2 separate regions of the Homo sapiens genome follow, and region 1 is linked to region 2. The links come from fine-mapping of genetic effects on gene expression. A gene starts in region 2. The other region holds a variant in brackets. All regions are shown on one strand. Distances are between the middles of the regions.

Region 1 (5,369 bases), 54 kb after region 2:
TTTGGGAGGCCGAGATGGGTGAGTCACCTGAGGTTGGGAGTTCGAGACCAGCCTAACCAACATGGAGAAACCCCATCTCTACTAAAAATACAAAATTAGCCGGGCATGGTGGTGCATGCCTGCAATCCCAGCTACTCAGGAGGCTGAGGCAGGAGAATTGCTTGAACCTGGGAGGCGGAGGTTGCGGCGAGCTGAGATCGCGCCATTGCACTCCAGCCTGGGCAACAAGAGTGAAACTCTGTCTCAAAAAACGACAAAAAAAAAAAGGAATGTGGCTATTTGTAAGATAAATAACAGGAATTAGTAACTTCCCAGCAATAAGAAAATGTAGTGAATAAAAAGCCCCCTTTTGCCATAGAAAAAATTTCTATAAAATTATTAGAAATAGAAACTTGACAAGAAATGTAAGATTTGTATGAAGAAAATGACAAAACTTTACTGAAAGACATAAAACAAGACTGGAAGGGGTGAGGAGTCACACCGTGTCTCTGGATGGAAAAACTTAATATGCTAAAGATCTCAACCGGCTCCAAATTAATCTACATTCCATTCAATCCTAATCAGAATTTTAATGTTGTTTCCCTACTGGGAACTTGGAAGGTTGACACTAAAGTTTGACTGGAAAAATTTGTGTGGAAAAGCTAAGACATTTTGGAAACAAATAATGAGGTGTGGCAGCCCCTACAAAATATGAAATAATACTGTAAAACCATATTAAAATCATGTGGTACTATTCCTAAATACCATAACCTAACAAAAGGAACCTGGGCTCCTTGGAAGAAGGGTCAATTTAAAATCTTTTTTTTTCTTTTCTTTTTTTTTTTTTTTTGAGACGGAGTCTCGCTCTGTCGCCCAGGCTGGAGTGCAGTGGCACGATCTTGGCTCACTGCAAGCTCCGCCTCCCGGGTTCATGCCATTCTCCTGCCTCAGCCTCCCGAGTAGCTGGGACTACAGGTGCCCACCACCACGCCTGGCTAATTTTTTTGTATATTTTAGTAGAGATGGGGTTTCACCGTGATAGCCAGGATGGTCTTGATCTCCTGACCTCATGATCCCCCCACCTCGGCCTCCCAAAGTGCTGGGATTACAGGCCTGAGCCACCGTGCCCAGCCAATTTAAAATCTTTGGCAATAAATCTGTAAGATGAGCTTCTAACTTCTTTCATACTAGAGAGCAAGGAAGGTATCCAGGACTAATAGGGTCTCAGCAAAGACACAGGATCCAAACTGAAGGTGCTTCTACTGTCCAGTGAAAACTCGTTAAATATATTAAAATCTTTAAGATCATAATAATACTTAAAAATATTTTGGCTGGGCGCGGTGGCTCATGCCTGTAATCTCAGCACTTTGGGAGGTTGAGGCAGGCGGATCACCTGAGGTCAGGAGTTCGAGACCAGCCCGCCCAACATGGCGAAACCCCGTCTCTACTAAAAATACAAAAAATTAGCCAGGCGTGGTGGTGGGTGCCTGTAATCCTAGCTGCTGGAGAGGTTGAGGTGGGAGAATCCCTTGAACCTGGGAGGCAGAGGTTGCAGTGAGCCAAGATCGCACCACTGCACACCAGCCTGGGCGACAAGAGTGAAACTCCATCCCAAAAAAATAAATAATTAAAAAAAAAATTGGAGGATGCTAGGCAATCTCATTCATTCTGAAATTGGTGAATGAATGGAAAGAGGCATGCAGAGAGAGGCATGCATTTATCCTCCCTTTCATGTACCAGCTACCTCAGAGAGTAACCAACAGGTTGACATAGGGCTGTTTTTTTGTTTTTGTTTTTGCTTTTTTTTTGTTGGAGGCAGGTCTTGCTTTGTCACCCAGCAGGCTGGAGTGCAGTGGTGTGATCTTGGCTCACTGCAACTTCCGCCTCCTGGGCTCAAGCGATCCTCCCACCTCAGCCTCCCGAGTAGCTGGGATTACAGGCGAGTGCCATCATGCTCAGCTAACTTTTTTTTTTTTTTTTTTGAGATGGAGTCTCACTCTGTCACCCAGGCTGGAGTGCAGTGGCACGATCTTGGCTCACTGCAACCTCTGCCGCCCGGGTTCCAGCAATTCTCCTGCCTCAGCCTCCCGAGTAGCTGGGATTACAGGGCCCTGCCACTGCGCCCAGCTAATTTTTGTACTTTTAGTACAGATGGGATTTCACCATCTTGGCCAGGCTGGTTTTGAACTCCTGACCTTGTGATCCACCTGCCTCGGCCTCCCAAAGTGCTGGGATTACAGGCGTGAGCCACTGCGCCCAGCCTCAGCTAACTTTCAACTTTTGTCTTTTGTAGAGATAGGGTTTCACCATGTTACCCAAGCTGGAGGAATTTTTTTTTTTTTTTTTTGAGAGGGAGTCTCGCTCTGTCACCCAGGCTGGAGTGCAGTGGCACAATCTTGGCTCCTTGCAACCTCCGCCTCCTGGGTTCAAGCAATTCTCCTGCCTCAGCCTCCCGAGTACCTGAGATTATAGACGTAAGCCAGCACGCCCAGCCTATTTTTGTATTTTTAGTAGAGACGGGATTTCACCATGTTAGCCAGGCTGGTCTCAAAGTCTTAACCTCAAGTGATCTGCCTGCCTTGGCCTCCACAGTGCTGGGATTACAGGCATGAGCCATCGTGCCTGGTCGAGATTTTTCTTTTTTACAGAAGAATTCCCACTAGTAAATGACAATCACCACCATTTTGCAGTCCTTGATACTTATCAGAACCAGGCGGTGATTGTCAGTGTGGCTAAAACTTACCTGAAAGGCTGATGGGGCGCTAGATAATGGATGGACTGGGCTGATGACCCTGAACCTACCATTAATCTTACCTGACAGAAAGACAACCAGGCATTATTGCATCCTGTGGTGAT[G/A]CTGTAGGAAGAACGTAGCGCTACCTATGAAGTATACAGGAGTTACTAAAAAAAACTCTGAATTGAACTTGAAACTGATCAAGCCTCCAGAATGAACTGCCAGTTTACAGGAGATACAGGGGCAGAGGCATAGGCTAAACAAACCACAGGAGGGTAAGCAGTAATTTCCCTGTTAGAATTTCCCTCATAGGCTGGTCAAGGTGGCTCATGCCTGTAATCCCAGCACTTTGGGAGGCATAAGCGGGTGGATCATTTGAGTTCAGAAGTTCCAGACCAGCCTGGACAACATGGTGAAACACTGTCTCTACTAAAAATACAAAAATTAGCTGGGCATGGTGGCGCGCGCCTGTAATCCCAGCTACTTGGGAGGCTGAGGCATGAGAATCACTTGAACCTGGGAGGCAGAGGCTGCAGTGAGCCAAGATCACGGCACTGCACTCCAGCCTGAGACTCCTTCTCAAAAAAACCCCAAAAAAACAAAAGAATTTCCCTCATAGAATGTGGGAAATTCTTTTAGACAAATGACCTAGTTTTTTCAACGAATGGATGGCAGAGAGGTGGGGGGAAAAAAGAGGGAGAAGAATTTTATGGATTAAGAGATTCGAGTGACACAGGAACCCAGAGAAAACCCCCAAAGCGTAATATTAATGCTCCCTTTGACTTCCCCATCCCTGGCATACTGAGGACATATAACGTTCAAATCCTTTATCCCCTAGGACAACCAGCCTCTGATGTCACCTATAAATTCCTGACCCCTGATGTCACTGTGATCTGATATCCCCTTACCACCCCACCCTGGCATCTCTGGCAGAATATCTTCCCTTCCACCTAACTTTGGCTCTTCTGGCACCCTGGGGAGAAGGTTGGGTGGCGGGTGCTGTTTCCCTCCAGGCACTTTCATCTCTGCCCTGTCTTCCTCAGCTTATTCCCAGCACCTGGACAATGAGATCAGTCACAGCAGCTACCTGGGCACCGACTACCCCACAGCCATGACCCCCACTTCCCCTCGGCGCTACTCTCCAGTGGCCAAGGACCTGCTCGGGGAGGAAGACATTCCCCGAGAACCGAGGCGAATTGTGATCCACCGGGGCTCCACGGGCCTGGGCTTCAACATCGTGGGTGGCGAGGACGGTGAAGGCATCTTCATCTCCTTTATCCTGGCCGGGGGCCCTGCAGACCTCAGTGGGGAGCTGCGGAAGGGGGACCAGATCCTGTCGGTGAGGGAAGGCCTGCCCCTACCTGCACCACCCCCTCCCCACAGGGCAGAGCGCAGAGCTCTTGGGGAGGGGCCTGGATGGGCTGCAGCCGAGTCCTCTTGCGGGACCACTCCCTGCTCCACCTGGACCCAGAAGTGCTGCCTCCTGTCTCTGGTGACACAGCCTGTCGTCCTCTCTCTAGGTCAACGGTGTGGACCTCCGAAATGCCAGCCATGAGCAGGCTGCCATTGCCCTGAAGAATGCGGGTCAGACGGTCACGATCATCGCTCAGTATAAACCAGAAGGTACCAGGCCGGAAGTTCCTTGTCTTGTGAGCTGAAATGGCCCTTAGAACTCTTCCTCAGCTGATGGCTTCAGTAGGGGAGGACAGGGGTGACAGTAGGATGGGGACAGAGCTCAGAAACCTCCCTGTCCTTCCTCAGAGTACAGCCGATTCGAGGCCAAGATCCACGACCTTCGGGAACAGCTCATGAACAGCAGCCTGGGCTCAGGGACTGCGTCCCTGCGGAGCAACCCCAAAAGGGGTTTCTACATCAGGTCAGAGGCTTCCCGGGCTGGACTCCTCAGCCCCTCTGCGTTCCTGGGCACTCTGTGCCTGGCCCGGGCCTCAGCCGCTCCTCTTCTCCACCCTGCCTGCTCTAGCTCCCCACCCCAGGCCTGAGGCGCAGCCAGGGTTCATGGGCTTGGCTGCACAGGTTAACATTTGAAATACTCCCTGTCGATGGGAAAATAGCCTCTGCCCCAAGTATCCCAATTGCCTTCTAGCCCCTGGTCATCCCAGCACTTCCCCGGGACTCCCAGGCCACCCCACAATTTGGCGTCTCGAAGGTTAATGCTTGGTGAAGCAGGGTCCTCTAGGGTATTTGGAGTGTTGCCCCAGCCTTCACGTCCCTGTGGGCAGTCCCGGAGACGTGGGCCGCAGCTCTGTGGTGCCTGCCCCCGTCTCTCCAGCGGCATTTTGCTCCCCTCTTAGGGCTCGTCTCCATTGACTCTTTTTGTGGCTTAGGTTTCTGCCAAAACACACCTCTCTCCCGCCCCCGGGGGTCACCCCTCCACTTCTGTCCCTGTCTGGCCCTGTGGCTTGCATGGCCTCGTCTGCCGCTGCGCTCTGCAGATGTCTCTCGGAGGTGCTGGCCCTGGCTGACCTATTTCCAGAGGTCAAGACCTGCACTTCTGGCCATTGGCTTTCTGGCCATCTCCACTGGGATGTCCCACAGGCGTCCCACACTCAACATGTCCCACGCTGAGCTCATCATCCTGCTGTGGGCCTGGGTTCCATCTTGCTGTGCCAGCAGTTTCCCTCTTGTTGGATGGCAT
Region 2 (5,343 bases):
AACAAATGAGTAAAAAAATAACTTGGAGAAAAAAAAGCAAATGGTAGATGGCATTAAGGAGAAGTAAAAAAAAAAAAAAACAGACAAAAAAGTCAAAAAAATGAAAAAAGGTCTGACTGGAGAACCCAGATGTTTATTCTAGGGTAGAAAGGAAAAGGGGCACACTCCTTGGCAGAGGGAGATGTATGAGGGGAAACAATGAAGGAGGGGTCTCACCAGGACAAGAGTCCTGATGGCTCACAGCATGCAGGACCTGGCAGAGTGTGGTGCAGGGAAGGCGAAGTAGCAGCCAGCTGAGTGAATCGAGAGCAATGGTGACAGGAACAGGATCTGTCCTCTTGCACATGGCTCTCAAGGCTCCCAGCGGCCCCCCAGGAAAGGCCTCCTCAGTTTTTGACCAGTTGAGAGGGTCTCTGAAGAAGTCATGGTAAACCAGCCTGCAAAGGGAAAATAAGACACAATATAATATTGCCCCTTCCCCCGAGAGGATCACAAAGTTCATCCTCTGATCTTTATGGCTGTTTTCTCAATTTTTATGAATATCCTAAATATTAGTGAAAGATAATTACTGAGAGAGAGCATACAGTGATTGAGAGCACAGACTTTGGTGTCTGACAGCCTGATCTCCAAGCTTGGCTTTGCTACTTGCCCAAGGTCAGCTAACTGATACATTATTTCTAAGAGTTGCCTCATTGGTGAAATGAGATGCCAACCTCTAAGCATTCAGCACAGTGCTTGACACATAGTATATGCCTGATAAATGTTAGTTATCACCATTATCAAATATTTCCTGTGTGTGGCACCTAAAGATTATCACCCTGGGTGAAAAAAGAGAAAGCAGAGGACGTGAGATTTGGTCCTGCCTGTAGAACAGCTTAAAGAAAGTCAAGAATTAAGTCAAGAAGTAACAACTACAGAAAAAACAGCTCAGGAAAGGGAGACTGGCATAGGTAGCAGAACTTTTTTTCCCAGATATCTCTTTTCTATCTTCTCTTGTGGAGTGCCCGCTTTTTTTTTTTTTTTTGAGACAGAGTTTCGCTCGTTGCCCAGGCTGGAGTGCAATGGCGTGATCTCCGCTCACTGCAACCTCTGCCTCCTGGGTTCAAGCGATTCTCCTGCCTCAGCCTCCTGAGTAGCTGGAATTACAGGCATGTGCCACCATGCCCAGGTAATTTTTTGTATTTTTAGTAGAGATGGGGTTTCTCCATGTTGGTCAGGCTGGTCTCGAACTCCAGACCTCAGGTGATCCACCCGCCTCAGCCTCCCAAAGTGCTGGGATTACAGGCGTGAGCCACCGCGCCCAGCCATGGAATGCCATCTGAACATACACCACCGCCTCTATCACAACAATGGCTGATGCAAAATTGGAGGCTCAACAGATAAGATGTAAACTACTATTATCATCCACTGAGTTGCCGGGACTAGGAAGTAGAAAGCATCCTACTAATGGTTCTTAATGTCTCCTGATCAGGCATGCCGCTGGGTTTAGGAACTTCCTTATCTCAATACTTTCTTCTCCCCCATATTAGTCAATAAATCCTGGAAATTCTACCCACTAAAGTCCTTTACATGTGTTCTAAACTTTCCATCTCTACTGCCACTGCCTTAAACCAGGCCTCTATCACTTCCTACCATTATTCCCTAAAATTCATTAGGTCAGGAACAGGTCTCACTCACTGCCGTCTCCAGTATCTTGCACAGCACCTGGTTGATAGTTGGTGCTCGGTACATATGTACCTTAAAGAGTGAAGCCGGATTAACGGATTACTGCAATACCCTTCCCACATGTTCTCCCTATTTCCAGGCTATTTCTCTCTCGACTTCTATGATCTTTGCTTTGGACTCCCCAAATACTCATCACTCCTCTTATTAATTCTTGCCTCCTGAAAGATCCATATCCAATTCTTCAATGAATATTTAAGGAACTGCTACTACATACCAGGTTCTGCGCTTGTTGTAAAGAAATTTCCTTAGCATTATAGGTCTCAAATTTAATCAAATCTCTTCCAACTGGTACTTACCGATTGTTGATATCAGAGTCAAAACCTTCACGAAACTCTTCCTCGCTCACTTCACAGCCCAGGATATGCACTTGCTCCCCACTAAGGCAGAGATGAGAAGGGATTGTCAAAGAGTGGGCACAGGTGCCCTATCCAGGGTAGGCCGGGGAGACACTGTGGGATACTCACCACAGTGCAGATTTCTTGACAAGCGCCTTCAAGAGACTGCGCCCCTCCCACTCCACGGAATCTGCAGAGCGAGGGACGGATAAAGGGTATGAGAGCGCTGGGATTACCGCCTTCGCGAACCCGTCGCGATTTCCACACCTAGCCTGTGACCCCTGGCCCTTCCTGCCCACTTCCGTCCCCTCAGCCAGGCCCGAACCGCACCCCCCGCCCCGCCACCGTGCCTCTGGCTCTCACCCCGAAGCAGCACCAGGCCGCCCAAGGCCAACAGCGAGTCCAACATCTCCAACTCGCGTCCGGTCCCTGCTCTGGCGCCCTCTGATGGCGTCATGACCCAGTGTCCTTCCTCCTCGGGGTGAAACGGGCCGAGCACTCGGGCGTCCTCCCACCATTAAGACCTAACATAGTCTGGAATGAGAGGTGATTATGTTCAATATTCCCAGGGGGGCGCTCACGCGGAGGGCGCCCCTCCCCGAGCCCTGGCGCACAGTCGTACGGACAACGACCCCGTCTACATTTTCACTGTGACCGGGGCGGGAAGAGCAGTTGGGGCAGTTGTCAGTGGGAGGGGGAGGAGGACCCACAAGCCCCCCGCGAGGGCCCTAAGCGCGGGCCAAGTGACGTCACTCTCCCCGCCCACGCAGTTTGAGGCGGGGCCTGCTTCGCCTCAGGCCCCGCCCCGCGGCCACCTTCTGCGCGTGCGCAATACTGCAGCCTCGCTTGGAGTGCTTTTGGCTTTCCTTATACCTACCCGCCATAGACCGCGCAGGAGGAACTTAGTCCCGGTGAAGCGAATACACGTCACCACCGGAAGTAGTGTCAAAGGGGAAGAGGAGGGGGAAAGACAGGAAGAGGGAGTCCTTTGGACGGTAAAATGGCGCCTGTCAGAGTGGGAAACCCAGCTGCAGAGGCTGCAGCCCCGGTCCCCAGCGGCTAAAGGACCCCCGAGCTCGGGGAGGGGGAGGCCGCTCCGGCCCAGCGCTCTGCGCCCTCCGGCTCCCCCTCCCCCTCCTTCCCTGCTCCTTCGCTCTGCAGGCCCGTTCTCCGCTGCCGCGGCCCTTTGCGCGCCGCTGCCCCCGCCCTCCCCGTTCCTGCGAGCAGCCCCCTAGCGCGCCTGCGCAGCGGGCCACTCTCTGCTTTCCCCCCCTCCCCTTCCCTTTTCCCTTCCTCCCTTTTCCCTAGCCCCCTCCCCCACTGCCCCCTCCCCCAATTATCCTTCCCCTTCCCTCCAGGTCTCGGAGGACCCCATCCTAGCCCTACCTGTCTCGGCCCGCAACCTCCCCGAAGCCGTCGGTGCCACTCCCAGCCCATGTGGGCCCCCGCGGGCTGCCCACGCCTGTCCCCCAGCTCCCCGTTCCGCTGGGCTTTACCCTCGCCAGGGGTGGCTTTCTGAGCCGCCCGCTCCGTGCCCCTCTCTGCAGCCTCTCCTGCCACTCGGGGCCCCCGTTCCCCCTCCCGGCGGCGGGGGGCTGCCCCCGGGGGGCTGGCGGAGCTGGGCCGCGGGGGCCCCGGGGCCGGCGGTGCCGGGGTCATCGGGATGATGCGGACGCAGTGTCTGCTGGGGCTGCGCACGTTCGTGGCCTTCGCCGCCAAGCTCTGGAGCTTCTTCATTTACCTTCTGCGGAGGCAGATCCGCACGGTGAGCCAGGGTGGGCGCTGGCGGTGTTGGGGACGTCTGGCGGTGTTGGGGACATCTGTCCGTGGTGCTCAGGGGTTTTCGGAGTGTCGGGCCTCTGTTTGGGCCTAGGAAGGGAATCCTGGCTGGGGCTTTTCTCGCCAGAGAATTGGGCACCCTAAGCGGGGCGAGGTGGGAGACCCTTGTAATAGAACCTTGCCCTTGGGGGTTTTGATGGGGCTAGATGGGACAGGATTTGGCAACTCTTGGGGGCTAAGGTGGTGGGTGGGGCGCTCTTTAAGAAAGCTGGAGTTGTTGCTAAAGAAACCAAGAGGCGGGGAACACCTGTTTGATGACAGCCGGATCTGTGGATGTGGGCTTGGGAAAGACCCTATTTGGAACCTCGGTGTGTGTTTGGTCCTATAACAAGGAAGAGACAGACTTGTGTGTCAAGGGTGGAGGTGGGTGGGAGGGCATACGTTACAAACAAGGACGGGAACTTGGGAAAGCCCTGGGTGTGAAGGAGAAACGCCTGCGGTTCCCATTAAGAGAATTCCTCCAAAAAGGCTGTGAAAATTTATTTCATAGTGTGAGTGTAGGTATCTGGATTTATTGAAGACTAAAGCAGATGCTTTTACGATGGGCCTCTTTAATTGTGGGAGGGAGTTCAAGGTGGGTGCTGTGCCCACCATTGAAGTTTGGGTGTCCCTGTCAGAGGACAGCGCTGGGCAGTTGTAGGGCTTGAAAATGAGGACGTTTGCTTCTCCAGGAGAGCCTAGCATTCTGAGGGAAACTGTCCGGATGGACCCAAGCATCTCTGGGTCCCCTCTCCCTTAGCTTTTCTCCAAGGTCAGAGGTCCTTCAGCTAACAGCACTTTAAATGAATGTGCTCTTGTGGTCTCACCACCACCAGGGAGAATCCTCGGAAGGAGTCTGGGGAGAATTTAGTAAGCGGAGACACAGGTTCTGGGTCTGTACTGTGGTCTGTACCCCTTAGCATACCTCAATACAATTTGAAAGAATAAACCCAGGTTGGGGTGACCTGGGGTCCAGAGAATTTCCAGAAAGCCCTCAGTGGTAGTGGTGGTTGATTTAACTGATTTGGGAGAATGGGTCTGGCCTTGGGTTCATTCTGTCCTTTACCAGTCTGCTTCCACTTCCTGATTTAGGGCGCGAACAGTACAGGATGGTTGTGGCTGTAGGCAGCAGCGCTATTCCCCCGAGACAAGAGCTAGGAGCCAAGAAAAATTTAGGGTCAGAGATGCTGGGATATGTGTGGGGCTATCTCCTGGGGTTTTCTTTTCTTTTCTGAGACAGTCTCGCTTTGTCGCCCAGGCTGGAGTGCAGTGGTGCCATCTCCGCTCACTGCAACCTCCACTTCCTGGGTTCAAGCGATTCTCCTGCTTCAGCCTCTCGAATAGCTGGGATTACAGGCACCTGCCACCACACCTGGCTAATTTTTGTAATTTTAGTAGAAACGGGTTTTCACCATGTTGGCCAGGATGGTCTCAAACTCCTGACCTCAAGTGATCTGCCCGCCTT

Which allele goes with the higher level. Alleles are on the strand shown, and positions count from the first base shown. SD is a standard deviation of normalised expression in the study named.
As copies of A replace G in region 1, the expression in prefrontal cortex of the gene that starts at base 2,805 in region 2 goes down (moderate effect, 0.50 SD a copy in ROSMAP).

Evidence for each region. PIP is the estimated chance that this variant, and not a neighbour inherited with it, causes the effect.
Region 1: its variant is the best candidate, but not a certain one, in a credible set for the expression of ELP5 in prefrontal cortex (ROSMAP, PIP 0.76).

The regions. Positions count from the first base shown.
Region 1 is chr17:7,195,440-7,200,808 of GRCh38, reverse strand. DLG4 (discs large MAGUK scaffold protein 4) reads left to right here. Exons shown (of 20, transcript NM_001321075.3): 9 at 3,757-4,052; 10 at 4,234-4,336; 11 at 4,475-4,589. Among named protein-coding and RNA genes, the nearest start is that of ASGR1, 19 kb to the right of the region's middle. RefSeq lists an enhancer at 3,517-4,716. The variant G/A (reference allele first, on the strand shown) is at 2,836.
Region 2 is chr17:7,249,677-7,255,019 of GRCh38, reverse strand. ELP5 (elongator acetyltransferase complex subunit 5) reads right to left here and starts at 2,805. Exons shown (of 8, transcript NM_203414.3): 1 at 2,424-2,805; 2 at 2,190-2,250; 3 at 2,022-2,102; 4 at 217-437. The coding sequence starts at 2,469. CTDNEP1 (CTD nuclear envelope phosphatase 1) reads left to right here and starts at 3,286. Exons shown (of 8, transcript NM_001143775.2): 1 at 3,286-3,825. The coding sequence starts at 3,724. RefSeq lists silencers at 2,149-2,388, 3,159-3,368, 3,439-3,558 and enhancers at 2,419-2,638, 2,507-3,095, 3,096-3,683.